Linked DNA regions of Homo sapiens. The protein of the gene in region 7 interacts with the protein of the main gene of each other region in a pairwise test. Each region holds a gene or a part of one and is shown on either strand. Other genes may lie near its edges. The genes, in order: LGALS9C, PNKD, AGR2, DELE1, PKNOX1, STX19 and NUP58.

The links.
Region 1: the proteins of NUP58 (region 7) and LGALS9C interact in binary tests that used the Homo sapiens proteins (3 or more experiments, as listed by UniProt).
Region 2: the proteins of NUP58 (region 7) and PNKD interact in binary tests that used the Homo sapiens proteins (3 or more experiments, as listed by UniProt).
Region 3: the proteins of NUP58 (region 7) and AGR2 interact in binary tests that used the Homo sapiens proteins (3 or more experiments, as listed by UniProt).
Region 4: the proteins of NUP58 (region 7) and DELE1 interact in binary tests that used the Homo sapiens proteins (3 or more experiments, as listed by UniProt).
Region 5: the proteins of NUP58 (region 7) and PKNOX1 interact in binary tests that used the Homo sapiens proteins (3 or more experiments, as listed by UniProt).
Region 6: the proteins of NUP58 (region 7) and STX19 interact in binary tests that used the Homo sapiens proteins (3 or more experiments, as listed by UniProt).

The regions. Positions count from the first base shown.
Region 1 is NC_000017.11:18,489,992-18,494,313, reverse strand, and holds part of LGALS9C (galectin-9C), read right to left. Parts: intron 3,582-4,322; coding exon 3,546-3,581; intron 3,042-3,545; coding exon 2,991-3,041; intron 2,370-2,990; coding exon 2,325-2,369; intron 1,858-2,324; coding exon 1,769-1,857; intron 1,618-1,768; coding exon 1,455-1,617; intron 94-1,454; coding exon 1-93. UniProt on the Homo sapiens protein: Binds galactosides.
Region 2 is NC_000002.12:218,339,431-218,343,752, reverse strand, and holds part of PNKD (probable thioesterase PNKD isoform 1 precursor), read right to left. Parts: intron 3,971-4,322; coding exon 3,855-3,970; intron 3,725-3,854; coding exon 3,612-3,724; intron 3,026-3,611; coding exon 2,967-3,025; intron 2,220-2,966; coding exon 2,127-2,219; intron 1,843-2,126; exon of another isoform or gene 1,773-1,842; coding exon 1,609-1,772; intron 254-1,608; coding exon 167-253; intron 1-166. UniProt on the Homo sapiens protein: Probable thioesterase that may play a role in cellular detoxification processes; it likely acts on a yet-unknown alpha-hydroxythioester substrate.
Region 3 is NC_000007.14:16,791,019-16,795,529, forward strand, and holds the end of AGR2 (anterior gradient protein 2 homolog precursor), read right to left. Parts: intron 4,002-4,511; coding exon 3,918-4,001; intron 1,940-3,917; coding exon 1,890-1,939; 3' UTR 793-1,889; downstream 1-792. UniProt on the Homo sapiens protein: Required for MUC2 post-transcriptional synthesis and secretion. May play a role in the production of mucus by intestinal cells. Proto-oncogene that may play a role in cell migration, cell differentiation and cell growth. Promotes cell adhesion.
Region 4 is NC_000005.10:141,936,930-141,941,251, reverse strand, and holds part of DELE1 (death ligand signal enhancer precursor), read right to left. Parts: exon of another isoform or gene 4,238-4,322; intron 4,055-4,237; coding exon 3,895-4,054; intron 2,732-3,894; coding exon 2,493-2,731; 3' UTR 1,747-2,492; coding exon of another isoform or gene 1,678-1,746; 3' UTR 1-1,677.
Region 5 is NC_000021.9:42,980,710-42,985,031, reverse strand, and holds part of PKNOX1 (homeobox protein PKNOX1), read right to left. Parts: intron 1-4,322. UniProt on the Homo sapiens protein: Activates transcription in the presence of PBX1A and HOXA1.
Region 6 is NC_000003.12:94,015,776-94,018,963, forward strand, and holds part of STX19 (syntaxin-19), read right to left. Parts: intron 2,724-3,188; exon of another isoform or gene 2,664-2,723; intron 1-2,663. UniProt on the Homo sapiens protein: Plays a role in endosomal trafficking of the epidermal growth factor receptor (EGFR).
Region 7 is NC_000013.11:25,328,714-25,333,035, forward strand, and holds part of NUP58 (nucleoporin p58/p45), read left to right. Parts: intron 1-2,643; coding exon 2,644-2,845; intron 2,846-4,322. UniProt on the Homo sapiens protein: Component of the nuclear pore complex, a complex required for the trafficking across the nuclear membrane.

The DNA.
Region 1 (4,322 bases), on a different chromosome or scaffold from region 7:
GGTGGGCAGGTTCCTCAGGCGATGGTAGTATTCAAACACGTGCTGACCATCCACGGCCACCTTGAGGCAGTGAGCTTCACACAAGATCCACACCTGTGCAGAGATTATGCCGTTTGCACTACACTTGGGAAGTCCTCCACCCTCACTGCAGCCTCCTCTCTCCCTCCCTCCCTCCCTCCTCAGTTGTTAATAAGCCCCTCACCTGCACTCTATCCCCACTGAGCGACCGGCTCTTCACTAAACAGGCTGTGCGTGCTCCTTCCCCTGTACTGTTCCCTGGCGTAGAATACTGTTCCCACGACATCAGGGACAGGAGCACTGGCCTGTGCCATCTGTATCCCTCGGACCCAGCACACAGGAGTGCTCTGGGCCTGGGCTCCTGCAGCATCAGCCTCCTAACTTGTCTTTTCCACCCCAATGCCTTCTCCATGAGGCAGTCAGGGTACAAATGTTAAAACCTCCTGCCCTTTGCAATAGCTGACACTCCTAACACACATGCCATGTGTAAGGCACTGTCCTAAGCGTGCTACAGATACTGCCTCATTCCATTCTTACAGCTCTAGGAGATTCATATGATTATTAGCTCCATTTTGTAGATGAGGAAACTGAAGCACAGAGTAGCTAAGTCACTTGCCCGAGGTCACACAGCTGTCCACAAATCAAAGAATGTTGCTCCCTGGCTCCATGGCTGCAAAGCCCTACATCAGTCATTTTCAACTCTGATTGCAGAGTGTAATCACTTCAGGCATATTTTAAAAATACAAATGCCCAGGCTGACCGCCTCATTGGCCTGGGCTGGGGTCCCAGCACCTATATGTTCTTTGTAAGCTCTCTGGGTGATTTGAATGTGTAGTCAGGGCGGAGCACGCCTGCTGCTGTTCCTGGAGAGGCCACACCCACACCTCTGCATGTTGGCCCTAGCTGCCCCTCCCAGGCTCGCTCTATCTCATCGCTCTGTTTTGCTTTCTGCGTGGCACTGTTGTTATCTGCAACAATCTGTTCATGCTTTAGTTTCCTTGTTCCTTCCCCCAGCTAAATTGTAAACTCTCTGGAGGAAGGACCCTACGTGTCTGCTTCATGACTGCGCTCCCAGCATGTGGAGTGCTTCCTGCACAAAGCGGGCGACAGTGAAATCGTTGAATGAGTCAGTGAAGAAATGAATAACACCTCCTTCTTGGGTCTGATTTGACACTTACTGACTGTGTGACCGCAAGCAAGTAACCTGCACTTGTGAGTTTCTTTCCTCATCTAAAAAAGCAGATCCCAACGCTTCCTTCATGCAGGACAGTAATAATTATTAATAATAATGACAATAATTTTTTGGCCACCTTTTCTTCTGGGCCCTCATCCCAGAGGCATCAGCTCCCATCCTGTTCAAGGTACCCCAGACCTCCTTTACCCCCTCCCCGTGTACCCATAGGAGCCTCCTCAAGCTCCAGGCTGCGGCGCCTTACCGAGAAGCTCTGGCCTCGGACGAAGGGCATTTTTCGGGGCAGACTTCGCTCCTCAGACCCCCAAGAGTTGTTGATCTGGGTGTTACGGACCACAGCATTCTCATCAAAACGGGGGTTCATGTGGAAGGCGATGTGGCTCCCAGAGCACAGGTTGATGTGGAACCTGGGGTGGGCAGCCTACCTGGACCTTTGTCCACTGAGTTCTGAGCCCCATTTCCTCCCCATCATCCCCAGCCTGCCAAAAGCCAGGGGAATGGCTGGAATGACCTTGAAGGGCTCTCTCTTCCCAGAGGTCACTGGAGCCTTTGGCTTACCTCTGAGCACTGGGCAGGACAGTGCCTGACAGGATGATGGACTTGGATGGGTACAGCCCTCCCGGAATGGTGGTGATGAAAGGCATCGGCTGTCAGAAGGACGGGGACAGGTCAGCCAGTGGCAGTCAGGGCAGCCGCCACATGGAAGGGGAAGATTGTACCAGTTCCCATGAATTTAGGCTGTCAGCTGAGAAGAAGCCCACGATATCTTTCCTTGGTTCCATAAAAGCCAAAGGAAAACTTTCCGGTGCTCCTCAAATTAATGGGCTTAGATTAGTGTCATGAAAGGAAATTTGGCCAAACACAGAAAGAAAGACTCGTGGGGTGAAAAGGGAGGGCCATGCAATGTGCTCACGTTGACACGACAGTTTTAAGGTTGAAAGCTCCTCTCCACAGTCTTCTAATTCACTGGGACGCTTTGAAGCCCTTCAGCTTACCATTTTGAAAGCCCTTCGCTTTTCATTTTTCAAGGCCAGCGGATCCCCCCGTAGCGGCCCTTCATCCCTAGCCTGCCCACCACAAACAGAACCTCTGCCCTCCCTGAGAAACCACTTACATAGGCAGGGTGGGGGTACATCATAGGTGGGATGGCGGGAGTCTGCTGAAAAGAAACCAGGAAATTCAATGGGAGAGCGCATGTGTGCGCGAGCACTCACCCACGCGCACCCACGCATTCTAGAGGGGGCTCCACTGTGAGGCTGACCTCATGAGCCTTTGGCCCTTGGACTCTCCCGTAAACCTCCGTTTTCATGTTAGCCTTCCTGGAACTTCCTGCCGTGTTCCCAGACCCCACCATGGTCACCTGCCCCTCAGCCCCTCCGCAGGCAGCCCCACTAATGCTAAGTTCCCGGCCTGATTTGCACCAGCAGGAGAAGAGCTTAAGCCTGTGATCTGTAGTGACATCCCGGGGACCCAGGAGGCAGGGCCAGGAACCTCACATCCGGGTGCTGGGGCCACTGCACTCCCCACTTGGTGACAGAAGGACCAGTTTCCCTCCCAGTCTCTAGGGAACCTGCCTCTTCCACCACTGGATAAATCCAGAATCTCTGCTGTCCCAAGGATAGTTTTAACCACATGTCACCTGAGCCAAGGACTCAGCCCCAGATGTCCCCACCCTCCTTGCTAAACCGCTTTCTTCCCAACTCTAGGGCTCTAGGGAGTTTAGTTCTTGGGGAAGGAGGGCACTGTGCAGCTGTGAACTGATCAGAACTTGAAGACTTACAGAGAACATCTGTCCAGAGGCACTCTGCACCGTGTGGATGACTGTCTGGGTCTGGAAGAAAGAAACCAGGTCTCACCCAGGCTCTCCTGAGTAAAGACCACCCCAGCTCCCACCAGAGGGTGCCACACGGCAGGCACCCTCCAGGGGCATAACCAGCCCAGTGGCCCCACAGACCCCACGGAGGGTGGGTCCAGGGGACGAGGGAGAGGCAAAGGTTAGGACCCTGGAGAAGACAGATGGGGACGCTGGTGGCTCTGGCCCATCTTTCCTCTCGGGGAAACGTCTCTCAGCCTAGCCTCCCTTTGCAGGTGAGAGAAGTGAACGTGGGGCATGGTCTTCCGTGGCTGCCCATGGAGTGGCAACTCAGGTTGTTCCATCACGGCCAGCCAACCACATTCACCCACCAACCTCGCCAGGCCGGGTAGATGGTCAAGGGCCTGGCCTCTGCCCTCCCCACTCCCGATGGGAGAGGCCCAATGCCTGGCCCTGCATCCTCCATTAGCCCAGAAGAAGAGCCAAAATCAAGAGGATCCAAAAAGAAAGCAAGAGACTTACAATGGGAGCTGGGTTGGCAGGCCGCACGCTGGGAGGCTGGAGGGGTGAGGAGAGTCAGAACGGTGGTTATTGCGGGCACCACAGAACGGGGAGAGACGATGGCAGAACTCCAGGGAGGCTCTTGTGCTCAGAAATGCCTCCCCAGACACACCCACCTCCCTCTTGCTCCCAAGCAAGCCTTCCTGAGCCCGTGGCACCCAGATTTTTACCCTCAGGTGCACAAGGCTTTGGGGTTGAGGGGTAGGGTATCCCCACTGGTTCCTCTCGAGAGAGAGGAGGCTGGGTTTGATAGAGACCTCATTGCTGTCTGTAGCTCCCACAGCCAAGAGCATTACTTCCGGTGCCATATTTCACCCGTAAGCTGAGAAGTGGTATTTGTTGAAGGCCTATTGTGGGCCGAGTCCTGGGCTTCAGTGCTTTCCAAAGAGGGAAGCAGCCTCAGCTCCTGTGTCCCTGGTGAGGCAATGAGGCTCAGAAAGATTAAGCAACTTGCCCAAGCTTGCCCGGGTGGAAGGGATCAAATCCAAAATGGCAGCCAATTCTGTCTGACTGTATCCAGCACACTTTCTGTCATCCCTAGGGCCAGGGCCAGCGCCAGGGCCAGGGCCAAAGTTTGGCTGCCCTGCGAATGTTCCCTGGGGCTCCACCAGTCCTGAAGTCAGCGTGGCAGGAGGCAGGTGCACTGTCTGTACCATCATGGGCCATAAAAAGGCTACATAGACAAAGCGCCCCTCCTCCCAGTCCCCACTGCTTGAGTGGCCAGAGGAAGGGCTGCCC
Region 2 (4,322 bases), on a different chromosome or scaffold from region 7:
AGAAGGGAGGCCAGAACTCTGTCCCTACCCCTAGAGGTGGAGCTGTGTCGCTTCTGGGCCAGGAACTGGGCTGGCCTGCTTTCTAGGGGAGTGAGGGGGTGGGAAGGCCCTTGTCCCAGGCTGAGCGTGGGGCTGGAGGATGGGGAGTAGTAAGGGGGTGTCTCACCAGGCCACAGAAGGGTGTCATCCCCTAGCCCCAGCACAGTGTCCAGTGAGCTCAGCATGGTCTCTGCATTGCCCTCAAAGGTCCGCCCTGGGTGGGGGTTGGAGGGTATGTCACAAGGTGCCAGGATAACACAATATGGCATAAGGCACACCCAGACAGGTGGGAACCAGCTTGTAATGCTCTGGCTGGCCGTCAGCCCTGACTGTGCACTTTCCAGACCCACCCCAGGCATCTATTCCCTCCTCACTGGGAACTGGGCCCAACTGGTCACCCCCTGACCAAGCCCATCCGAGGCCTCCGTTGCACACAGTGACACCTGAAGGGAGGGGCTGTGGAATCTTCGGGCTGCAGGCCCCAGGCTTGGTAGACGCAGGGCTGCTCTTTCCCACGGAACACTTCTTCGCCTAGGCTGCCCTTTGGGATTTCATGCAGCCTGGGACTTGTGATCCTCACCCACCCACTCACCTAGCTGTTCTTAACTTTTCATAACCTAGTCCTGCCAGTCACTGTATCAGAGAACCAGTCTCCACCCAGGGGAAACTAATTCCCTGCAGGGCTTTACTCAGCTACAGACATTCTCCCATTCTGTCCCGCAGCTGGCAGAAGTCTTTTTTATTTTTGAGACAGAGTCTCATTGTTGCCCAGGCTGCAGTGCAGTGGCACAATCATAGCTCACTGCAACCTTGAATTCCTGGGCTCACCACCACACTGGCTAATTTTTGTATTTTTTGTAGAGACGGGGTTTCACCATGTTGCCCAAGCTGGTCTTGAACTCCTGGGCTCAAGCAATCCACTTGCTTTGGCCTCCCAGAGTTCTGGGATTACAGGCCTGAGTCACTGCTCCTGGCCTATATTATTTATATTATTTAAATTTTTTTTTCTGTTTTGTGACAGAGTCTCACTCTGTCTTCCAGGTTGGAGTGCAGTGGCGCGATCTCAGCTCGCTGCAACCTCTACCTCTCGGGTTCAAGCAGTTCTCCTGTCTCAGCCTCCCTAGTAGCTGGGATTACAGGCATGCACCACCATGCCCGGCTAATTTCTGTATTTTTAGTAGAGACGGGGTTTCACCATGTTGACCAGGCTGGTCTTGAACTCCTGACCTCAGGTGATCCTCCCACCTCAGCCTCCCAAAGTGCTGGGATTACAGGCATGAGCCACCACGCCTGGCCTATTTTAAAATTTTTTTGTAGAGACAGTCTTGCTATTTTGCCCAGTCTGGTCTCCAACTCCTAGCCTCAAGTGATCCTCCTGCCTCAGCCTCCCAAGGTGCCCCAAGGGAAGTCTCAAGGATTAAAACCAATCTGAGTAACACAGATGGAAGTAACTGCCACGGCAACATCTGTGCTAAAACTAAGGCTTCAGTGCTCTCCATGGGACTGTGGCTGCCCTGGCTTCTGTCTCTCCCTCCTCTCCCAGCTCCTCTCTCTTTCGGGGAAACTCACCACAGCCAGAGAGGAAGAGCAGGTCCCCTGAGAAGAGGCAGGAGGGACCCTTGTAGGGCTCCCCATCCAGTAGGTAGACCAGATGGCCTTGTGTGTGGCCAGGTGTAGCCAGGGCCCGGATCTGAAGCCGTCCCACGCTGACCACATCTTGATGACACAGGGGACTGGGGAACAAGGGAGCAGGGGACAGAAGGTATTGGATCTGTGCCATGCTGATCCCTGTCCCCATCCCAGGCCCAAGGGGCTGGGTGATTCACAAGAGAGTGGGCTTCCATACAAAAGAAGTCACCCCAGTGCCTCGGGTCTCAGGTCCGAACCCTCCCCCTTTCCTCTTTTGGGGACTATGGCTGGATCAGTTGGGGGATGGGCAGTGCCAGTCTTCAGATAGGCTGGGATTGGGCCAGGAAGGGCACTGGCAAAGATCCACCTGCTGATACCCCTGAAACACTTCACTGAAGGCTGGGGGTGGGGGAAAGGGCCCATGGAAGGGCCATCCCTTGCCTAGGTCAGGGACTTACTGGGTGAGGTAGGGGATGCCGTCCTGAGGGCTCCCGTACACCCGACAGTCCCGGTGCCGCCGGCTGAGGTCACGGTTCCCTCCACTGTGGTCCCTGCAGGACAGCAGAGACAGGCAGGGGGCTTCGAGGGGCAACTGTACCTAAGCCCCCTTCTTTACCACAGCATCTCCAGGCCTTTAAGTGCTGGGGCTGTGGCTTCTGGACTAAGCCAAGTTGTCCACACCTCTAGGCCTTTGTTCAAGCTGTTCCCTTGCCCAGAACATCGCCCCCAACAACTCAAGCTGGCCAATGCCAGCCGAGCTTCCTGAACCCTCAGCTCAGGTCATCATCTTTCAATTCTCCAAGTGGATCTGATCACACCGTGCCTGGGCCTCCCATCCCTGTTCCCTGTGCCAACTGTTACCTAAATATCACATACTTCTTTTTTGAAGACAAGGTCTCACTATGTTGCCCAGGTTGGGCTTGAACTCCCAACCCTCTTGCCTCCGCTGTTATATACTTTGATACAGGGCTACCTCCCCTATTGGTCTTAGAATTTCCTTGATGGAAGAGTCATAACTTTTGTCCATGCCCAGTGTGCAGTAGGTATCTAATACATGCCCATGAAATGAAAGAGAAATGACTGCCCTGCCCTCTGGGGCTTCAGAAGCTTGATCAATGGAGTGGTGGGAGACTGTCCCCTCTCCTCCCTCCCTGCTGGTGTCCAGGTGACTTCACGAGGAAGGCGGGTGCCGGCCCGTACTGACTTCTTGATCTCTGGCCCCGGCCGTCCTCAATGGGCCCAGTCCTGGCAAGCCCAGCTGGGACAAGGGTGGGCCAGGGAAGACGGGAGCCCCTTACCAGTGCTTGTGAGTACACAGAATGGCGACCAAGGTGACCCCTTCCTTTTCAATGGAAGCCTGCGAGAGAGAGGAGGTTTGGAGACTGGGGAGCAGGATGCAAGAGGCACTTGAAGCAGCAAGAGCCAGGAGTGTGGGCGCTGGTGGAGAGGAGAGGAGAGCATGGAGAGATGAAGCAGAGGAAAGGGATGGAGCTGGAGGGGAGAGATCCAGGAATGTGAAGCACGGGGCACATGGAGGCAGAGGGACACTTGTACATAGAGAGAGGCAGACACAGAGAGATAAGGAATGGGAGGGAAAGACAGAGAGACCCAGATACTGACAGACAGAGGTGACAGAAAGAAAGGGGGTCTGAAGGGGGCCAATGGGAGTGAAAGCCAGCCTGGAAACTCACTAGACCCAGAGTCCTGGGCCAACACCCCCAGCCCTCTGGCTCTGCATCCCCCACTCCTGCTCTCCCCTTCTGCCCAGCCATGCCCTGTACCCCCCTTCCCCAGGCTATGTGTGCGCATGTGCACGTGTGAACATGGAGCATATGGGACACATCCCACGGGCAGACGGACAAGGGTCAGCCCTCTCTAGCAAGGCGAAACTGCCAGTCCCCAAGGTGACTCCAGGCACCCCCTGCTCCCTGCCCTCCCCTCACCTGCACAGCCCGAGGGTCTGAAGGGTCCACAGCCACAGCCAGCTGGGCCTGGGTGTCGATGATGAGGTAGCTGTAGTTGTCCGAGAGGACAGGGATGGGAAGCACCTTCACTCCTGGGGACAGAGATGGGCTGTGGGCGGGGTAACAGGCAGGGAGCCCAGGGGCTGGGGTATGTGAAGGGGAGCAGGCGGGGAGGGTGGGGGCACAGAATGGGGGATGCTGGCCGGGGCAGTCAGAGCTCACCATTGAAGAGGCGGGGCTGGGTTTTCGAGTGGCCTTTAGGGTAGCGATTCCGAGCCCTGCGCAGCTGCTGTCGGTAGAAGAGGTACCCGAGCCAGGTGCGGGTGTACAGGCTGTACCTAGAGGGCGAGTGGGTGGCCTATGATTAGCCTTTTCTCCCTAGCTCCCCTAGACTCCTTCGTGATGCCTGCAGGCCCCACATCTCCATTCCTTTGGTGACCCTGTGAGCCAATGCAATTCCACTCTCACTTATTATGTGCCTACTGTTTGCCCTGCTTAGCACTCAGGACAAGATGGAGAATGAGACGGACACACCTAGAACTCAAAATCTATCAGGGAGACATGAACTGAGGAACTCACAGAAGAAAATTGGAGAGGCCAGGCGCAGTGGCTCACACCTGTAATCCCAGAACTTTGGGAGGCCGAGGTGGGCGGATCACCTGAGGTCAGGAGTTCGAGACCAGCCTGACT
Region 3 (4,511 bases), on a different chromosome or scaffold from region 7:
AGACCGTGGAAATAGAGGGAGAGGGAGAGGGAGACCGTGGAAAGAGGGGGGGGGGGGGGAGGGGGAGGGGGAGGGGGAGGGAGAGAAGAATTTTTATGACTACTCACCTAGACAGGATTAAAAAACTGCATTTTGTCTTAATATACCATGTGGCCATTATATTTTTGGGAGGTTGCTTTTCTGTGGTACGTTTAAATAATGTTACCATTGGCATCTTGACAGAACTGTTTCTGTTGAATGATTTCCTTAGGATAAATTCTCAGTGGTGGAGGAGACTGATGGGACAAAGTCAATTAATGACTCATGCTTTGTGTTTCTTCAATGCTTTTAAAAGGGGGACTTATTTTCCTTACAGCTGTAACATTTGATTTCCTAAATATTTATTTATATTTAAAAAGTATTTGTATGTGTTAAGATATTTTGCCATTCAATACATTTTAAGAAGTTAACCTTATTTCACGTCCGCCCAATGAAAAAATATTTTGCTATACTATAGGAGAAACTTGAATCACTTAGAACTTGTCATTTAAAATATTTGTTTATGGAAGGGAAACCTCTTTTTCCTCTTGTTATCCCTCAGAGATCTTTTTAAATGGAATGTTTTACCTTTTTCAGCACATGTAAGTTATCTACTTGTGAGAAGGGAGCTGATTAACCTGTGATATTTTTGCTGAAGATTTGTATGTCATTAAATCAGCAGTATATGCTCAACACCTACTAATGATAGTAGTCACTAGGAGAGATAGAAAAGATTGAAAATATATCCCTGGAAAAATTAATAATGCCAAAAGATCTGTTCAAAAAAGGTTTTATCCAAAAAAGTTAATCAAGACAAGCAACAGATACTGCAAAGCATTATATACAGCACCATAGTCCAGGGGCCAAAGAAATCAGGAGGGGCTGGGCAGTAGAGGAATTCCATATATTAATGAATGTGAGATTAAGTATAGAGTGAAGACATTAACACACAATTCTAATTTCTGTTAGGCAGAATGCTCCCCTACCCTGATGCCACAGCCTTTCACGTTTCCTAAACCCTAGTAACCTCTGATCTCCATCTGCCTCATCAACACGTCACCACCCTTTGCTCTTCTTCCAATTAGTCACATGTTGGCTGAATTTATTTCACTCCAGTACTTTAGGACCTTGACAGACAAATCGATTACAAGGTCAATTCCCAGGATTTCTTCAGGGTGTGTTCAGGAGTGCAGATGTTCTTTGGATGACCTTTCTACTAAATTAGACCTCTGAAGGAGAAAGCTACTTGCCAGAGGCTTTCCCTGAGAGCATTAGGTTGGGCAAAATCTGACTAAAATTTAATTACTAAATGAAAGTGTGTACCTTAGAGTTCCTGGCCAGAGTTGACTCTAGGTAGTGATGTGATTTTCTTGGGATGTTTTTCTAAATATTCTTTTATGCTAAAGCACATGGCTTGATACTTCTGTTGATTAAGCTCGTGTCTACTTACAGTCATCTAGTGAGAACCTGTGGTGTGGTGAGATGATAACTTGGTCTTTGGTCTTCATCATTTGAACTAGTTTTGGTTTTGTCTTGTCCCTTCCTTGAGCATTTTGTGTGTGTTTAATCCTATTTGGTAAACGAACCACTGTGAAAGACCAAGTTGGAGAAAACAGAACACCCCCAAAACATTTATTTTTTTTTTTAGAAAATCATGGCTCACTATGGTAGTATACAATATTGTTTTCACACATGTACACTTGAAACCAAATTTCTAAAACTTGTTTTTCTTAAAAAATAGTTGTTGTAACATTAAACCATAACCTAATCAGTGTGTTCACTATGCTTCCACACTAGCCAGTCTTCTCACACTTCTTCTGGTTTCAAGTCTCAAGGCCTGACAGACAGAAGGGCTTGGAGATTTTTTTTCTTTACAATTCAGTCTTCAGCAACTTGAGAGCTTTCTTCATGTTGTCAAGCACTAATGGGGGATAAAAGCAGGAGAGTCAAGACACCATCGTGCGTTATATCGATATAATAAACCCCAAACTTGGATGCTCAATTCATTATTTAATGGGATGCTTTTTTTTTTGAGACAAGGTCTCACTCCCACTCAGGCTGGCATGCAGTGGTGCAATCTCCACTCAGTGCAACCTCTGCCTCCTGGGTTCAAGTGATTCTTCAGCCTTAGCCTCCTGAGTAGCTGGGATTAGAGGTGTGCTCCACCATGCCCAGCTAATTTTTGTATTTTTGGGAGAGATGGGGTTTTGGTATGCTGGCCAGGCTGGTCTCGAACTCCTGAGCTCAAGTGATCCACACACCTCGGCCTCCCAAAGTGCTGGGATTACAGGCGTGAGCCACTGTGCCCAGCCTGATAGGATGCTTTTTATCATGAGGTGAATAGTTGGTAATCTTATTGTAATTTAAAAAAATTATATGAAATGGCTTTTGTGACAATCTAGTTTTCTAGTGTAGTCATTCCTTCCCAGATCCTTCATCTCCAACCCTCACTTCCAAAAGAATCCTTTTATAAGCTCTAGCAGCAGAAGATAATTTTGGCTCATTTAGAAGTAAATTTAAATCATGTTTAAAAGAAATGTCTATTAGTAGGTGTGTGTAAATTGTTTTAGAAGTAGGGGAAATATAAATAATAGCAAACCAAGTGCTTTATGCAGATGAATTCTTTAATCCTCATACAAACACGATTAGAACTTTATATATACATAATGAAACAGGCAGAGAGAGGCTGAGTAGCTTGCTCAAGGTCACACAGCTAACAAGTAATGGAGCTACTGTTCCAGAGCCCAAACTCTGGGTCACTGTTTCTTCAACAGCAATTCATCAAAATGAGGTATGTGATCTACTAAAAATAAGATGTCCACTCGATAGGCATTGAACAGCCGCTTATTCACTCTTCCTACAAATCTTAATTATTAAGTGCCTGTTCTACAAGGGATTGTGATATTACTTGTGTAGGACACGTGCCTTTTAAGAGCTTAGTCTTATTAAAATGTATGGTATTATCTCAGTAATGGCTGACAGTACTTGGAATGTGCTTCCCCTGGTCCAGCACACACTGGAAACATTGCTAATGGACCATGATGATCTCTCCTGCTTCCTAGACACGGCCTCACTTCTCTTCCCAACATGACGTTCTAAGTCAGCACTGGCCAATAGAAATTTCTGTGATGATGGAAATGTTCAGTGTCCGGGCATTGAGCACTTGGAATATGGCTAGTGTGACTGAAGGAATGAATTTCTAACTTTAACTTAAGTAGCAACATGTGGCAAATGGTTAACATATTGGACAGTGCAGTTCTAGGCAGCCACTACTAATTGATCAGAGTTGGTTCCTAGGATAAAACCCACTTTTCTTCCCAGAGGACTAATCAGATGTCACAGCTAGCTACAGCGTTGCATTGAGGTACCTCATCTGCCTTAAGTCAGTGTCTCTCTCTCTCTCTGTCTCTCTTCCATTGATGGCAACCATAGGGAAGGTAATTTTCTTGGCAATCATTTGGATCATCTTTGAAACTGATCTTTAAACTGAACCTGAATTTAATTTTAAGCTGGACTGCACATTCTTTCACTTTTGTTATTTAAAAAATTAAGACATGCAGATTATTACAATTATTACACTCAGTTCTGTGATAGAAGGAGTGTGTGCTCGTGTACCTAACAGAAAACCTGAAAATCAGGTAATGTGGTCATAGAATCCTCCTAGAGAAAAAGATACCTAATCTAAATAATTCATCTTCAATTGAGATTAAAAACAAACAAACCTGAGATGGAAAGAGTGTGATTTGCCTGAAGATGCAAGGCTAGTTAGGGTCAAACTGAGTCCGAGGCGTCCCTAAGCCTAGCTCTCTCTCACCTCACCATGCAGCCTCTAGTCCCATCACTACAGCAATAGAGGTGTTCAACTCTTGGGCAACATCCGAATTGAAGGTCACACTTACACAGAGCTGTATCTGCAGGTTCGTAAGCATAGAGACGATTTGAATATCTTCCAGTGATATCGGCTCTAACTGTCAGAGATGGGTCTGCAAAGATAAATGAAGCAAAAGGGAATGGAATGGTTTGTTTTCAAACAACCTGTATTTATTGCCCCGGGGAGCTGAAGTTCATGTATTCATGTCCTGTGAGGGAATGGAGTGTGTCTGCACTCACAGGAGCTCTGATCCATCCACTCTACTACCCAGCCCCTGGCAGTTAGTAGCAAATGCAGGGCTGGAAACATCAACAGCTGTGCAGTGCTATTTGTGGAAAAGGTTATGAACCCTTCTGTTCTATCTATGGCAACCTGAAAACAGAATAATATATATTTAGGGGTGACATGGTGTTTTTTTTTTTTTTGGTGAAAACATTAACATTCTCTACTGCAAAATTATTTTAAATTCTTGAAACGATTATGTTGTAGTTTACATGTTTCTAGATCATTGGAAACCCACATCCAATGCTAGTTTTCAAAACGAGTTTTTTAAAAAAAGTTAATAGAGGAATGCAAGTCCTTAACAACAGCAAAGTTCAAATAAGCATATAGTACCTTCACT
Region 4 (4,322 bases), on a different chromosome or scaffold from region 7:
GGGAGGGCTGCATCTGGCCTTCACCACAGGACGCCCAGTGGCCAGACTGTGAACCAGCCCTCGGCCCCAGCTATGGCTAGAAGGAAGTAGTCAGAAAATCCAAAATGACCACAGAGGGGAGGAGGCTGGGGAGTGGGGCTCCACAGGGAGGGCACACGGTGACATTTCACGCAGAGGGTGCCCCAGGAAGGCTCAAAAGCAATCTGTAGGGAAACGGGCTCTGGGCTCAATTCAGTGAGAGAAAACATTGGGTTAACCAAGTTCTTTACTGGAGGACTTCTTGGAACCTCAAATATGCTGATGTGTATTGTGAATCTATAAAAAGGGGACGTCTGGTGCAGCATTTCCCAAACTTATTTAACCACAGAAACCTTTTTTTGTTTGTTTTTTGGCAGAGAGCTTAGTGCACTGCACAGCTTAAAACCCTGAGCTTGAAACCTCAGGTTTCCTACCCTGCATGGGGCCTTGCACTCAGTGCTGGGGACACTGGAATACAAAGACAAGGACCCTGCTCCCAAGGAGTGCCATCTGTGGAAGGTGGCCATGTGCAGGGTCCAACAGTGGTGAGCCAGTGTGCAGGGCAGCCCTGAAAAGGAGGCAGGGAGCAGGCGAGGAGATGGAGCTAGAGGACGCTTGGGCTCCCCGGGTGAAAGAGAGGTGCTAGGAAAGTATGGCAGGACCACTAAGAAGTTGAGAGAGATGGGGTGGGAAGCAGAGAGGGAAACGTGGACAACTTTCCCCCCTCAAATCTTCTTGCCTTTGAATTGGCCAGGCTGGTTGGTCTCCACTCAGTCATGGGATTGTGGGGGGTGGGCGGTGGGCTCTCTATCCCTCCCAGACCCCACTCTCAACCACATCTATGCTATTCAACTTGGGCTAACATCCAGAAGCCAGGGAATAGCTATTCACAAATTCAGTAACTGGACTCATTAGCACTGACTCAGAAATCTTTTTTTTTCCTAAGTCTCTCTCCTGGAGAAGCTTTTAAGATCCTTTAAATTGGTTAGTGGAGAGTTTAGAGATGAGGACGGAGCCTCAGCTTTCAGCTCCCCCTGCCCGTCTCCCTGGCTCTTCCCATAATACTCAAGGGCAAGAGTGATGAGATAATCCAATATCTGTTTTATTAAACACCTAGACATTTCTGGCACATGTTTCCCAAATGGGGACCTCAAAATCTATACTCTCCAGCTTTAAGACTCCTAGCATTCAATCTACATTTACTCTCCCATGGGTAGGACAGTCATAATGCTTTCACATAAAATTGCAGTATGAACTGATGGACAAGAACTCTGGGCCAGGAGTCAGGAGGCCCAGGTCCTCACCCTGGCCCAGCGACTCATAAAGTCATGCAACCATGAGCATCACTGCCTCCTGGGCCAAAGTGAGCACAAAGGTCCTCTCTGTGGTGAAATGCCCTTGCATTTGTCTTCTAAGGTAGGAGGGCAGACACCATTGCCTTTGGTCTACAACTGAGGAAACAATATAGGGAGTCAGGTCACAGCTTCAAGGTGACATGGCCAGGCAAGTGGCAGAGCCAGACCTGGGTCTTCACACACTTTCCTCTTCTTGACTGTACTGGCGCAGGTGCTTAAGATTTGGGGGAAGGTGGGTGGGTATCTGGCCTCTTCTTTGGGACTCAAATTGTGATATCTCTCTGAGAACCCACAGGCTCCCTCTTTAGGGCTGAGGTGAGAAGTTCTGAAAGTCAAGCAGACACATCCAGGCATTTGGGCAAGAAACTTCTTCCTTCCAAATCAAAGGTGAAATGAAAACGATTATGAGCCCACGGGGGATGAACAGAGGTGAATGGTGGGCTAGTCTCGAGGATGGCCTAATTCAGAGTTTCCTAAGTGTCAGCCATTCATGGAACCACCCCTGTGATTTTTGCTACCTCTCTGGATCTGTGCCCACTTTTACGTTATGTTTTTCTTTAAACTGATTCACTATTTTTTTTTACAGTTAGCTTTATCCTAGACAGAACATCTATCAAACTACAGGTCAATATGCTAATCATATTTTTATATTATACATTAAATATATAACTAAATAGAAAATATTAATTTGAATACCATCTAAAATCTTCTTGTGAACCAGGGATACACACATCAGACATTGGCAAACAGTAGTACAGATTTAAGTGTGAGAAAACCCAGGCATAAGAAGGAAGAAGGTAAGTTATTTGCTCAAAGACAAAGGCTAAGGTGAGCACCAGGGTCTCTGGACCCTTCAGTAGGGTTTTTCATAGGTCACTGAATGCATCCTTTGGTGCACAGACCAGAAATGACTGTGAATGCATCCAAGACTCATCTGTGAGGCTACCAAGCGGGGGGAAAGATCAGTCACTTACCAGCCATGTACGTGAAATTGCTTGGGAACCTGAACTCCCGCTGGAATTTCTACCTGGAAAGGGTTGCTGATGCTCTATTTTTGTTATCCAACCTCCTGCCCGCTCTGGCCCCTAAGAGGCACCAGGGACTATGTTTTATCTCACCTTAGCCAAAACCTAGTCTTACAACACTCCTTTCCAGTGGGTAGGGGTGTGGGGGAATAGCCCTGCTGGAGGCTTCCAGGCTGGCTCCGAGATGCCCACTTCTGCAGAGGAGGCCAAGGTTGCCTGTGCTCGAGGCATGTGGTAGGCGTGAGGTTCCTGCTAGCAGGGTGTTCAAGCTGCAGAGGGAGGGGCTGGAGAAAGACTTCAGTCCTGTAACTGTCAGGTCGCTGGGCCCCGGGGCTACAAGAAGAGGTGAGAGCAACTCTTACTCTTGCTGTATATTCTTGGACTCCTACTTTGGAGCCAGCACTTCTTCAAGGGCTTGGTTCCCCAGGCATTGTTAACTCCCAACCCCAGTGACTCATGAGTGAGCAGGGCTCTTAGAGCCCTAGAAGGGTAATTCAGGCAACCTTGGGATATTGTCTCTCCTACAAAATCATCAGAGCAGCTACCATTTGTTCAATACCTACTGTGCTGTCAGGCTGTGCTAAGTCCCTTAGTGTCATCTCATTTCATCCTTATGACAACTTAATGAGTTAGGTGCTACCATTACCTTCATTTTCAGAGGTGAAGAAACTGAGGCACTAAGCCATGGAGTCCAAGTTCAGTGATAGTGGGGGTTAAAACTCAGGTTTGACTGGGCGCGGTGGCTCACACTTGTAATCCCAGCACTTTGGGAGGCCGAGGCGGGTGGATCGCCTGAGGTCAGGAGTTCAAAACCAGCCTGGCCAACATGGTGAAACCCAGACTCTACTAAAAATACAAAAAATTAGCCAGGGATCGTGGTGGGTGCCTGTAATCCCAGCTACTTGAGAGGCTGAGGCAGGAGAATCGCTTGAACCCGGGAGGCAGAGGTTGCAGTGAGCCGAGATCGCGCTATTGCACTCCAGCCTGGGCAACGAGAGTGAAACATCATCTCAAAAAAAAACAAAAAAAACTCAGGTTTGTCTTGACTCCAAAAGCTGCATTCTTTTTTTTTTTTTTTTTTTTGAAACAGAATCTTGCTCTGTCACCCAGGCTGGAGTGCAATGGCGCGATCTCGGCTCACTGCAAGCTCTGCCTCCCGGGTTCACGCCATTCTCCTGCCTCAGCCTCCCGAGTAGCTGGGACCACAGGGTCCGCACCACGCCCAACTAATTTTTTTTTATATTTTTAATAGAGACGGGGTTTCACCGTGTTAGCCAGGAGGGTCTCGATCTCCTGACCTGGTGATCTGCCAGTCTCGGCCTCCCAAAGTGCTGGGATTACAGGCGTGAGCCACCGTGCCCATCCCAAAAGCTGCATTCTTAGCCACCACTGGGGTTGGAAATGACTAGGAGACCAGAGACTACTGCTACCTACTTATCTGTCACAGAGTACTGAGCTCAGGGAATGAACCTGTTGGCTTGGACTTGGGTCTGTACCTGCAGCCCCCATGGAAAAGAGGGCTCGCAGCCTCTCCTGGGCGGCCTCATTTCCCAGAGCGGCTGACTGCTGGTAACATCTCAAGGCCTCTCCCAGATTCCTCTGCACACCAAGGCCTTTCTCATAGCAAATTCCAAGGTGGTACCTGCTCTGTGAGTCCTAAGGAGAAAATGGACAGACAAACAGATACACACATGCAGGAATGAGGAACTGACATGCTAAGGGAGGAGGAAGATGAAGTCAGGCATGCTGGGACTTCATCCACACACGGTCAAGGCCCAGTCCTGGCCCGCCCCATAGCAAGGGATCTCAACTACGAAATGCCAGAGGCTCAGAGCTCACCCAACACAAAGGAGAGGGGGATCCCTCCACCCAGGGAGATTCCAGCCAGGGCAGTGTGGAGGCTTCTCTTGCATAGGCTGGCTGA
Region 5 (4,322 bases), on a different chromosome or scaffold from region 7:
TGGGCAACAGAGCGAGTGAGACTCCATCTCAAAAAAAAAAAAAAAAAAAAAAAAAAAGAAAAGAAAATGAGGAACCCTAACCCTTGGAGGCAAGGACCCCTTTCCCATGGACAGCCTCTCTCAGGCACTGCCTACACTGGGCACACAGCACTGTGGAACTGGCACCTGCACTCCCTCCCTGCACAGCAGCCACCCCTCTCTACTCTCCCTGTCAGCACTAAGCTTGGTGGGTCAGAGGGACTCCAGCTTTCGGATGGCAAAACACAGAAAGTATCAAAACCTAAATACTCAAAAGGCTCCACAACATAGAGCATGGCCGTAAAATAATACAAAAAACTGGAACTGGCCGGGCATGGTGGCTCACGCCTATAATCCCAGCACTTTGGGAGGCCAAGGCAGACAGATCACCTAAGGTCGGGAGTTCGAGACCAGCCTGAACAACATGGAGAGACCCTGTCTCTACTGAAAATACAAAATTAGCCAGGCGGGGTGGCACATGCCTGTAATCCCAGCTACTTGGGAGGCTGAGGCAGGAGAATTGCTTGAACCCAGGAGGTGGAGGTTGTGGTGAGCCAAGATCATGCCATCGCACTCCAGCCTGAGCAACAAGAGCAAAACTCTGTCTCAAAAAAAAAGAAAAAGAAAAAAACTGGACTCACAAAAGTGTATGAGACCTTAAATTTTTAAAACGAGAAATGTGTGGATTATATAAATGTTTTAAAAATCACTAAAATGCCAACTAAAAGCATAACACAATATAGCTTAAAAAATATGTAAAAACGTATGAACATAGCCAGGCACAGGGGCCCATGTCTTTAAGTCCCAGCTCCTTGGGAGGCTGAGGCAGGAGTATTACTGGATTACTTGAGCCCAGGAGTTGGAGACCAGCCTGGACAACATCATGAGACCCTGTCTCTTTAAAACACACACACACACACACACACACACGCACACACACGCACACACGTATGCATGTAAGAAACCCAATTCAAAAAGGGGCAAAGGACTTGAAGAGATATTTCTCCAAAGACATGTAAATGGCCGATGAACATGTGAAAAGATGCTCCACATCACTAATTATTAGGGAAATACAAATCAAAATGACAGTAAGATGCCACCTCAAATCCATTAGGATGGCTGCTATTAAAAAAAGCAACAACACATAAGAAAATAAGTGTTGGGTAAGATACGGAGAAACTGGAACCTCTGTACTGTTGGTAGGAATGTAAACTGATACTCTCTCCTTATTGAGTCCTTGGAAAAATAAAAAATAAATTAAATTAAAAGGAATATAAAACAGTACAGTTGCTGCGAAAAATCGGATGGAGGTTCCCTAAAAAATTAAAAACAGAATTCCAGTATGATCCAGCAATCCCACTTCTAGATCTATATCCAAAAAAATTGAAAGTAGGATCTCGGAGAAGTATTTACACACTCAGGTTCACAGTTTTATTATTCAAAATAGTCAAAAGGTAGAAGGAACTCAAGTGTCTGTTGAGGGATGGATAAACAAAATTCAGTATATCCACACAATGGAGTATTCAGCCTTAAAAAGGAAGGAAATTCTGACACACACTACAACATAGATGAACCTTAAGGACATTATGGTAAATGAGCTAAGCTGGTCACAAAAAGACAAATACTACCTAATTCCACTGGTATGAAGTCCCTATAGTAGCGAAATTCAGAGACAGGAAGTAGAATGGTGGTTGCCAGGGGCTTCAGGGAGGGGAGATGGGGAGGCAGTGTTTAATGGGTATAGAGTTTCAGTTTTACAAGATGAAGGGTTCTGGAGACAGATGGTGGTGATGGCTGTACAAAAGTATGAATGAACTTACCACCACTGAACTGCACACTGAAAATGGTTAAGATGGTAAATTTTGTTACGTGTATTTTACCATAACAAAAAATTGGAAAAAAAAGGCCAGCCACAGTGGTTCATGCCTGTAATCCTGGAACTTTGAAAGGCAACAGTGGGCAGCTCATCTGAGGTCAGGAGTTCGAGACCAGCCTGGCCAACATGGTAAAACTCCATCTCTACTAAAAATACAAAAATTAGCCAGGCGTGGTGGTGGGCACCTGTAATCCCAGCTACTCAGTAGGCTGAGGCAGGAGAATTGCCTGAACCCGGGAGGCAGAGGTTGCAGGGAGCCAAGATTGCACCACTGCACTCCAGCCTGGGCAACAGAGCAAGCCCCTGTTTCGTGGGGGAAAAAAAAGTATGCTCAAATACGTAACTAAATTTAGAAGAACGTAAAGTTTAGCAATTTAATGTTTATTAAACTTTTTTTTTTTTTTTTGAGATGGAGTTTCGCTCTTGTTGCCCAGGCTGGAGTGCAATGGCGCGATCTCAGCTCACCATAACCTCCACCTCCTGGGTTCAAGTGATTCTCCTGCCTCAGCCTCCCAAGTAGCTGGGATTACAGGCATGCACCACCACACCCGGCTAATTTTTTGTATTTTTAGTAGAGACAGGGTTTCTCCATGTTGTTCAGGCTGGACTCGAATTCCCGACCTCAGGTGATCCACCCACCTTGGCCTCCCAAAGTGCTGGGATTACAGGCGTGAACCACTGCACCCGGCCTTATGCTCCTTTTTCTTGTCAAGTTAAATTCCTAACATTTTTAATGCAAAAAAATGTACAAACCTTCATAAAATGTCTGAGAGAACATGTAACAAAACACATGCGCTCACTCAGGCATTATGTTCTGGAAACTGTGATCATAGTACCTACCAATCCACAGCCCCTTTGAGTGACCCAACCCCACTGGCAGGCCCTGCTCAAAGGGGGCCTTCCTTGTGCAGGTGTCAGAAGCTCATTCCTCCCCAAGCACCACTCCCTGGGCCAGGTAGCCCTGCAACACCCAAGGCCAGCCCCCAGCCCGAAGGTCAGCGCCTGGTAGGTGGTGTGAGGGGAAAGAGCACAGGCACTCTCTCTGAGGTGGGTGCTGGAAAAGGGAGAGTACAGGGCAGGTAAGGCTGGGTGAGCCCCCACTGTGAGGGGAGCGTACAGATGGAACAGACAGTGGAGGGCAACCACCTAATTGAAGCGGAAGGCCAAGAGCCCTGGTGCAGAACTGGATCCTGCCAGAGCACAAACCATGGTTCCATCTGCCCAGAGGCCCAGCAACAATACAGTGGTCCCAAGAATCCCATAGACTCCTGTTTTCTTTATCCCTGCATGATCCTGAACCACCTATCTCACCACCCACCCAACTTGAAGTCAGCCTGCTCCCTGCCACCCTGAGAACCCGACTAAAACAGCCAATCATTCCAGCGTCAATCGCAGACGGCAAACAGTACAATTAGCTGGGTGTGATGACACGTGCCTGTAATCCCAGCTACTTTGGGGGCTGTGGCGGGAAGATTACTTGAGCCCAGAAGCTCCCGGCTGCAGTGGGCCGAGATCGTGCCACTGCACTCCAGCCTGGGTGAAAAAGTGAGACCCTATCTCAAAATAAAATAAAATTAAAATTAAATAAAATAAATAATAAAATAAAATAAGCTGCTCTGTCCCCTTCTCAAGTCCCTGAGGCATGGCCTCAGAATCAGAGCTTTAAACAGGAGTTTTATACCACATGCCAGACAACACGTTGACTGAATTACCACACTGCCTTCTATGTGAATCTTCCAGAAACAGTAACTAAACCGGCAGGGGCTAATAATCCAAAACAAGGAGCTACCATCTGCCAAGGGCGGGAACAGGCCAGGCTCCAGACTTTGCACACTGTCACGAGCAGGGCACCGCCAGCACCAGGCCTGCTGGCTCTTTCCACCAAGGACCATGCCTCTCAGCCCTTGAGTGCTTCTCCTAACAGTTTCCAGACTGACCTTCTTCTATGTGATATGTCCACTCTACATGTCCTCCTGAACAGTGTACACAAGACAGAACCATGAGGTATCCACTCAGTGCTGCACACGGATGCAAGATGGTACTTCCCAGGGCCTGCAGCCACTTCCTTCACCCTCACCTCCAAGGACACACACTGTTAGGCTTTGGGTTCCCCTATCTGTGCCGTTTTTATTTCCTTGTCTCTTTTGTCATCAATATAATCATTTGAGGAAGTAAAGAAAGGACACCATATATTCCTACAAATGGATAGGCTGAGAGTAAATCAACTTGGTATTTGTGAACATGAATGATAAAAGGCAAAAACTTCTAGCTGAAATGTAGCACTCCTTCAATTACAAAGGCAGACAATAAGCCCTGGAGTTTTAGCAGGAACAGCAACAGGTATTTTCCAAAGCATTAGAGTGTCACAAAAAATCTCGTCACTACTCCCAAATGAATTACCAGAGCCACAGCTCAATCCGGTTACTAA
Region 6 (3,188 bases), on a different chromosome or scaffold from region 7:
TTAAGCTATATGGATAATATTGAATTTATTTTAAATTTTCCGAAGCCTCTGAATTAACGTATTACTTGGCATAATGTTTTTTCTAGCTGTTGCATATATGTGAAAACATTGGTTTGATTATGCTGATTTCTCATTCTTAGCATTCTTTTGCAAAGATATCCAGACTGTCTTAGAACAAAATTTATATCAATTTGTGTTAGGTGATACTTTTATAAACATGAGAATATATTTATATACAATCTTATTTTAGGAGTAATAATGATATTGACACTTATCACATGCTGTGTTGGTAGTTATCTGTAAGAATCAAATTGATGTACATAATTTATATTTAATGATATAGATATATATGAAATGACATACATACATATAAAATGAAGGGAATAAAAAGCAGTAAAATGCTATTATCACAGAGCAACTTGATTTTAGAAATGTCTTTCAAGACATTTTTGAAGATAAGAAGAGGCTGTTAGGGAGTACAGATAGCTCATTGGACCACATATAATATTAATATCAACCAGAAAAAAAAGGTCTCTGAATGTGATGCTGTTATGCTGTAGGACTCAGTGTTTGATATGTTTATGGAAATATTTCTATTAATCTGGATGTTGTCATAGGAGGCATACTTAACAAATGTGTAGATGGTGTAAAATTTGGAGGAATCTTTAGTATGTTGAAGTACAGGGTAGGGATTCAAATATTAAAATAGTGTGGAACTTTATACTAAAAATAACAAAAATATATTTAACAGGAATAGATTTAAAATATTTCATCTAGCTATAAGAAAAATATTTTCGTATCTACAGAGTAGAAGACCCTTGGGTTCACAATAGTGTCTATGAAAGTATTGGAGATTTTAATTAATTAAGCTTTCTTTTTTTTTTTTTTGGAGATGGAGTCTTGCTCTGATGCCCCGGCTGGCATGCAGTGGTGCGACCTCAGCTCACTGCAACTTCTGCCTCCCGGGTTTAAGTGATTCTCCTGCCTCAGCCTCCTGAGTAGCTGGGATTACAGGTGCCTGCCACCATGCCCGGCTAATTTTTGTATTTTTGGTAGAGACAGGGTTTCACCATATTGGCCAGGCTGGTCTCAAACTCCTGACCTCGTGATCCGCCCACCTTGGCCTCCCAAAGTGCTGGGATTACAGGTGTGAGCCACCGCTCCCAGCCTAATTAAGCTTTCTGTCAGAACCATCAGAATAGTCACTATGCTTTTATAAATAATAGTCTGATGTATGGATAGACTAAACTCTGCCAACTCTATGCTATTCAGAGCAAATTGCAAGGGTAAGGGGAACTCAATAAACTTCTGAGCATATTTTGAGATGGAAGTTCTTAAGTTAGGAATTACCAGACTAGCATGGAAAGGATGAGATTGGAAAACCATACCAAATGGAGACTCATTGAAATAAATGGTAATATTTGTCCTGTAAAAGAGAAGATGTAGGGTGTGTATACAGCTGTCTTCTAAACAAAGGTCTGTGTATGCAAGTGAGATTAGACTTACTTGGCATAACTCCAAAGGGCAGTGGGTGGAAATTACATGGAAAGAGGTTTGATTCAATATAAAGAAGACTTTTCAAACAAATATTGCTTTCCCAAGATGAAATGAGCTGCTTCATGAGGTGCTGAGTTTGCCATCACTGGACATTTTCAAGATGTTCTGGAATGATGACTCCAGGCAGGCATGTTACAGAAATGATGCCTGTTTTGGGTAAAAGGTTAAACCAATGTCCTGGTAATATTCCTTTGGTTTTAAAGGACTGGTATTTTGTGAAATAGTCATTGAAGTCTTATATGTATATAAGTTTTAAATGCTGTAATATATATTTAACATTTTCTGTCCTTGAGGAATTTATAATTTAGGGTGAGAAGGACAATATACAATTTAAAAGATAAACGGGATAATTTTAGGTTTTGATACAATAATCAGGCAGGGTCTCTAAGCAGATATTTGAGATGTGAGACTGAATGTTGAGAAGCCAGGCAGATGAAGAGCCGAGGGAGTGTATTGTAGGTCTAGGAGTTGGGTTGCCAAGGCAGTGAATGAGACTGATATGTTTTAGGAACAGAGTTATTGCATAAGAACAAAGTGAATGTAGATAGAAAGGAATGAGAGGAGTAACATGGGAAGAATGAAGTAGAAAGGTAGGCATGGACCACATCATAAAGGACTTGTGGGCCAAAGGAAGGAGTTTAGATTTTATTCTAGGTGCAGTAGAAGACAGTTAAAAGATAAATAGGATATTGACATGATTTGTATATATTTTTTCATTTTGATATGTAATTTAAAAAAATTTTAAACTGATACAGGGGTGTCCCTATGTTGTCCAGGCCGGTCTTGAACTCCTGGGCTCAAGCCATCTGTTCGCCTTGTCCTCCCAGAGTGCTAAGATTACAGGCATAAGCCACCATGCCTGGCCCTGATTTATATTTTTAAAAGATGTTGTTGCTTTCTATATAGAGAATAGTTTCCTGGGGAGGGGGTGGGAGTAGTTCACAGAAGAGACTTTAATGATAGAGATGGAGTAAATGGGAACCATCAGGATATATTTTTGAAACTAGAAGCAATAGGACTTGATGATTTTAACCCATCAGCACTTAACACAATCATTTCTTGAGACACTTTGAAGAAAAGTATTTCTCCTGTTTTTTTTCTCTTACCTTTTTGGCTCTTCCTTTATCACTATTTTCTTTTTCCTGGCTACTCCTTATCTCCCCCACCTGTAAATATTGGAAGATTTTAGACTGAGTCTCATTTTTATCCATCATCATTTTTTAGTCTCATGGCATTAAATGCTGTTTGTAAGCTGATGACCCAAATTTGTATCTCCAGTTTAGGTTGCTCTTAAAAAACTGCCTACCTGACAGCTGCATTTGAATGCCTCTATCCAAAATGAGCTCATAATCTTCCTGTGAACCCGTAAACTGCCCCATCTCTCTTCTGGCAACTCTATTTTTCCAGTTGCTCAGACCAGAGACTCAGAAGTCTTTTTTTGTTTGTTTTTTGAGACCGAGTCTCACTCTGTCCCCTAGGCCGGAGTGCAGTGGTGTGGTCTCGGCTCACTGCAACCTCCGCCGTCCGGGTTCAAGCAATTCTCCTGCCTCAGCCTCCCGAGTGGCTGGGACTACAGGCATGTGCCACCACGCCCAGCTAATTTTTGTATTTTTATTAACGACAGGGTTTCA
Region 7 (4,322 bases):
CATAATAACGTTAGTTTTAAAAATGTATTTAAGTGAAATGTTCAAGGTAAGTACATCTTTTCTAACTAACTGAGCAAATGTAATTAAACTCTTTAATCTTGGAGTGTATGTGGTCCAAAATACCTTTAAAATTCAAGCAGCGAAACCTGAGTCTAGATAAATTATCAACTGTGTAGAATAGAGTTTAATTGGAATTATCAACATTTTCATTTTTATTTTGATTTCATGCATAGTAACAGGATTTTTTTAAGTAAACCATTTAAATTACACCATTTTTGAAATGGTAGTGCACTTTAGACCTTTTGCTTTAGTAGATTTAAAACTGTAACCCAAATCTTTAAATTTTGTTCTAAAGGAGGAATTTTATCAGATTTAAAAAAATTCTATTAGTCTATAATAAATGTTACTTTAATTTTTTAATAAAATTAATGTATGGCACTTTGAAGTCCGTTGCACAGAATTCTTTTCCTTAATTTTTATTATGAAATCTTTCAAATATACACAAAAGTAGGCTATCATTATACTGAATGCCCAGGTATGACTACCTAATTGCAACCATTATCAAAACCCTGCTGAACTTGTTTTATCAATGCTCCACAGAAGATGCTTTTTTTCCCCCCACGAAGTATTTCAGAGCAAATGCCAGGTGTAAACGTACATTTTTTTTAGCAGCACTGTCTCCTCTCTGGTTTGGAAAATATATCATTTTTGGTAATATGACCATAAAACAGTGAGACCAAGACCACATAAAACTGCCCTAGATCACGTCAAATAAACGTTGTAGACATGAAATTTTGACCTACTCTTTAAGCAACCCAGGAACGAAAGGATATTCCCAAGAACCAAAGAATATTTTATAATCAGATTTGGTATGTTGCCATTATTTTTAGCTTAGTTTAGTGAGCAAACTAAGCTCTAGGTTTCTTTATTTCTTGTAGAAATCTCACAAGACATTTTTTTGTTCGTTTTGTTTTTCATTAGGTAATCTGTTGAAACAGGCGTTAACTATTCTATCCAGCCAGGCCTCAGGAACATTAACACATTTGGAAGTTTTAGCAATTTGTTTTATAAATCATGGCTGATGTCAAGGTTTTTGTTTGTTTGTTTTATTATTTTGTTTTGTTTTGTTGAGAAGGGCTTGCTCTGTTGCCTATGCTAGAGTGCAGTGGCGTAATCATGACTCATTGCAGCCTCAATCTCCTGGGCCCAAGCGATCCTCCCGCCTCAGGCTCAGCCTCTTGAGTAGCTAGGACTACAGGCATGCACCACCACACCTAGCTAATTTTTTAACTTTTTGTAGAGAGGGGCACTTGCTGTGTTGTCCAGGCTGATCTTAACTCCTGGCCTCAAGGAGTCCTCCTGCCTAGACCTCCCTAAGGGCTGGGATTATAGGTGGGAGCCACCGCGGCCAGGCTGTTTCTTTTAACTAATGGTCTTGGTCTTAAGTTTCTAAGGTGGATCATTATTTTCCATTATCTGAAGTAGAACTAAAATTTATGGGATACTGATGCTTGCCCAGGACAAGGAAGGGTGGATTTGCAAGAGATCGGTAGTGCTTGTTTTTCTTACATCATATGTCTTGATTCTGGCTTTGTATCTTCCCCAGTATCCAGTTCTTGGCAGGCCCCCTTTTTTAATACATCATAAATGTAGCAAAGTTTGGAATTGGAACATCAAACACTGACATCCACACAAAAAGGGCGATGATAGCTTTTAAATACTATAAACAACAGTAAGATTTTTAAGTGCTGTATTTGTTATAATCAGAACCTAATGTTTACTAATTTCTGCTAAGAAATGTAAGAAATATGAAAAATCTGTGTCTCTTCAAAAAGTGGTTAAAAACCTATCTAAATTAGGCTAAATCTTCAATGAAAGCATAAAATAATTCTAAAGTGAAACAGAATTGTTGCTGTTGATGGCCTTAATCAAAGCAGATGCTGCATTGGGTAAAAGCAGCTCACTTTATGAACTTGGGAATTTTTCTTACTCTGGAGTTACAAACACTTTTTTTCTTTGAGGCGGGTGGTTGGGTTCATAACTTTAACATGAATCAAGTCTCATTGTACAATGGTCAAATAATAGCAATAAAGTAGAAGCCCTCATCATACCCTCCAACCACTGCTGAGGTGCAACACCTTATTTTAGCATGTGTTACCCAGGCCTTCTAAAAAATGTATTTAAAAGTATGTATATTTAGTGCTGACTTTTTTTTCTTTCTTTTTTTTTTAAACTGTTTTAATCAAAAGGCTATGAAAAGGTTGGACATTTGAGGGGAAAGTTTCTTGAAAAACTGGAATATTTATTTTTAAATTCTTTTCATCCATCCATCTGCACATTGATGGAGTATTTAAATATTACTCTGTCTAAAAGCTTAGCTGATTTATTTTAAACAAGGCCTCACAAAGACAGTATTTTAGGAAGCATATTGTAAAGATAGGGAGTAAACTATTCAAGGGAGCAGTAGAACTCTTGAACTCATCATTTCCTACACCAAAGTGCATTATTAGCACTCTAATTTGCAGTTTGGATTGAATGTATAATATTGGGACTGTCTTTGGTAATTTATGGTTATATTCATCCACATATTAACCATAGTCAATGTGAAACTTCATTTAGCCGTTTTGTTTATTATTCTTTTAGGTTCTGAAAGAACAGTACCTTGGCTACAGGAAAATGTTCTTGGGAGATGCTGTTGATGTGTTTGAAACAAGGCGAGCAGAAGCCAAGAAGTGGCAGAACACACCCAGAGTTACTACTGGACCCACTCCTTTCAGCACCATGCCAAACGCAGCAGCCGTTGCCATGGCTGCAACACTTACACAGCAGCAACAGCCTGCTACAGGTCTGAACGCATTCAAGTTATAGCTTCTTACTGTTCCAATGCAGAACATTTATGTGCGTTTTTATAAGTCTTCCATTTGTGTGAGCACTGAAGAAATTTCTATGAGTAGCTGTTCCAATACAATCTAAAATTGTGATGGACACGATTATAAACATACCTGATAAAAAAGGCAGGGTAGTCTTAGCAATAATTATACATCAATTAGATATTGAATATTGTGAATCTACTTAATGTTATTTGCTGTAATGCTATAAATGCCCTTTAGAACATGGTGTTTCACTAGTGAATTACATTTAAGAATAACATTAGATTCTGAAATCATGACTGTACCATTTATTGTTTTAAAGTCAGAGATCATCCATCCATTCTTTGAATTTTTCATATATGATACTGATAGGTGGTGCATTCTCATTTTCCTCATACATAGTGATTACAAAGTACCCACATTCAGGATGAAGTATGCTTTTATTGACTGAAGGTATGTTGAAGATCAATAGGCTTGTTTGTATGTATGTTGACTGTAAACAGAATACAAGCCCTCTAAACCAAATTTTGAAGATGATACATGCTAGAATTGTACCTTTCCAAGGTGAACAGAACAGCAAGAGCAGGAAAAAGATGTTTTGAGATGTGGATTGCACATTAAGGAGCAACTGGGAAGTTGAACAGATGAAAATAATTGGTGACATGGAAAGCAGATTGTTTTATTTCTTGGTTTAGTTACACTTCTAATTAGAGAAACATTTTTTGTGGTCATTCTACAGTGTTTTATTTGGTCCTGTGTCTTTCGGAGGTTAATAGTTATCTTAATCCTGCCATCCCTTTTGTCAGGTTTGAAGCTTGACATGGAAAAATAGTCTTAATCGATATTGATTTTTTTATTTTAATCATTCATAAATTTCTTAGTAATGCTTACTATTCAATAGCATGTGTCTTTCTGAGAGTTCCATATAGTCCAGTAGTACATTATAATACACACAAAAAAATTAATACATATTTAGATTGCATTCAAGCTACCTATACTAGGGAAGCATTCTCTGGTTTTCACTATTGGCAGTTTAAAAAATTGTTCTTCACATTTGGAGATGACAGAATTGACTTGCCATAAGTAAAGGGTTGATGATAGATTTATGCCAAATCCTCCATATCCCGTGGCTGGACCCATGTGAATAGTGGCTCGCACGAGCACTGTCTGGTAGCTCTCTAGCTGGCTGGAGTGTAGGATTGCATTGTTAAGTTATGGAGGGAAAAAGTCATTATGGGATTGATTCCTTTGAGGATTGATATTTCTTCTTAAAAGGATTCAATCCCATAATTATGACCATCAGCTCTCATGATTACCTAACCAGTTAATCAAACCAACCATAGTACTAGTTTACTTTTTAGAGCCAGTATTAATCCTAAAGTAGATAAGTGTAGATTTGGTTAAGTGTTCTTTAAACATAGTGAATTTCCATTCTATTAAATAGAACTTGAG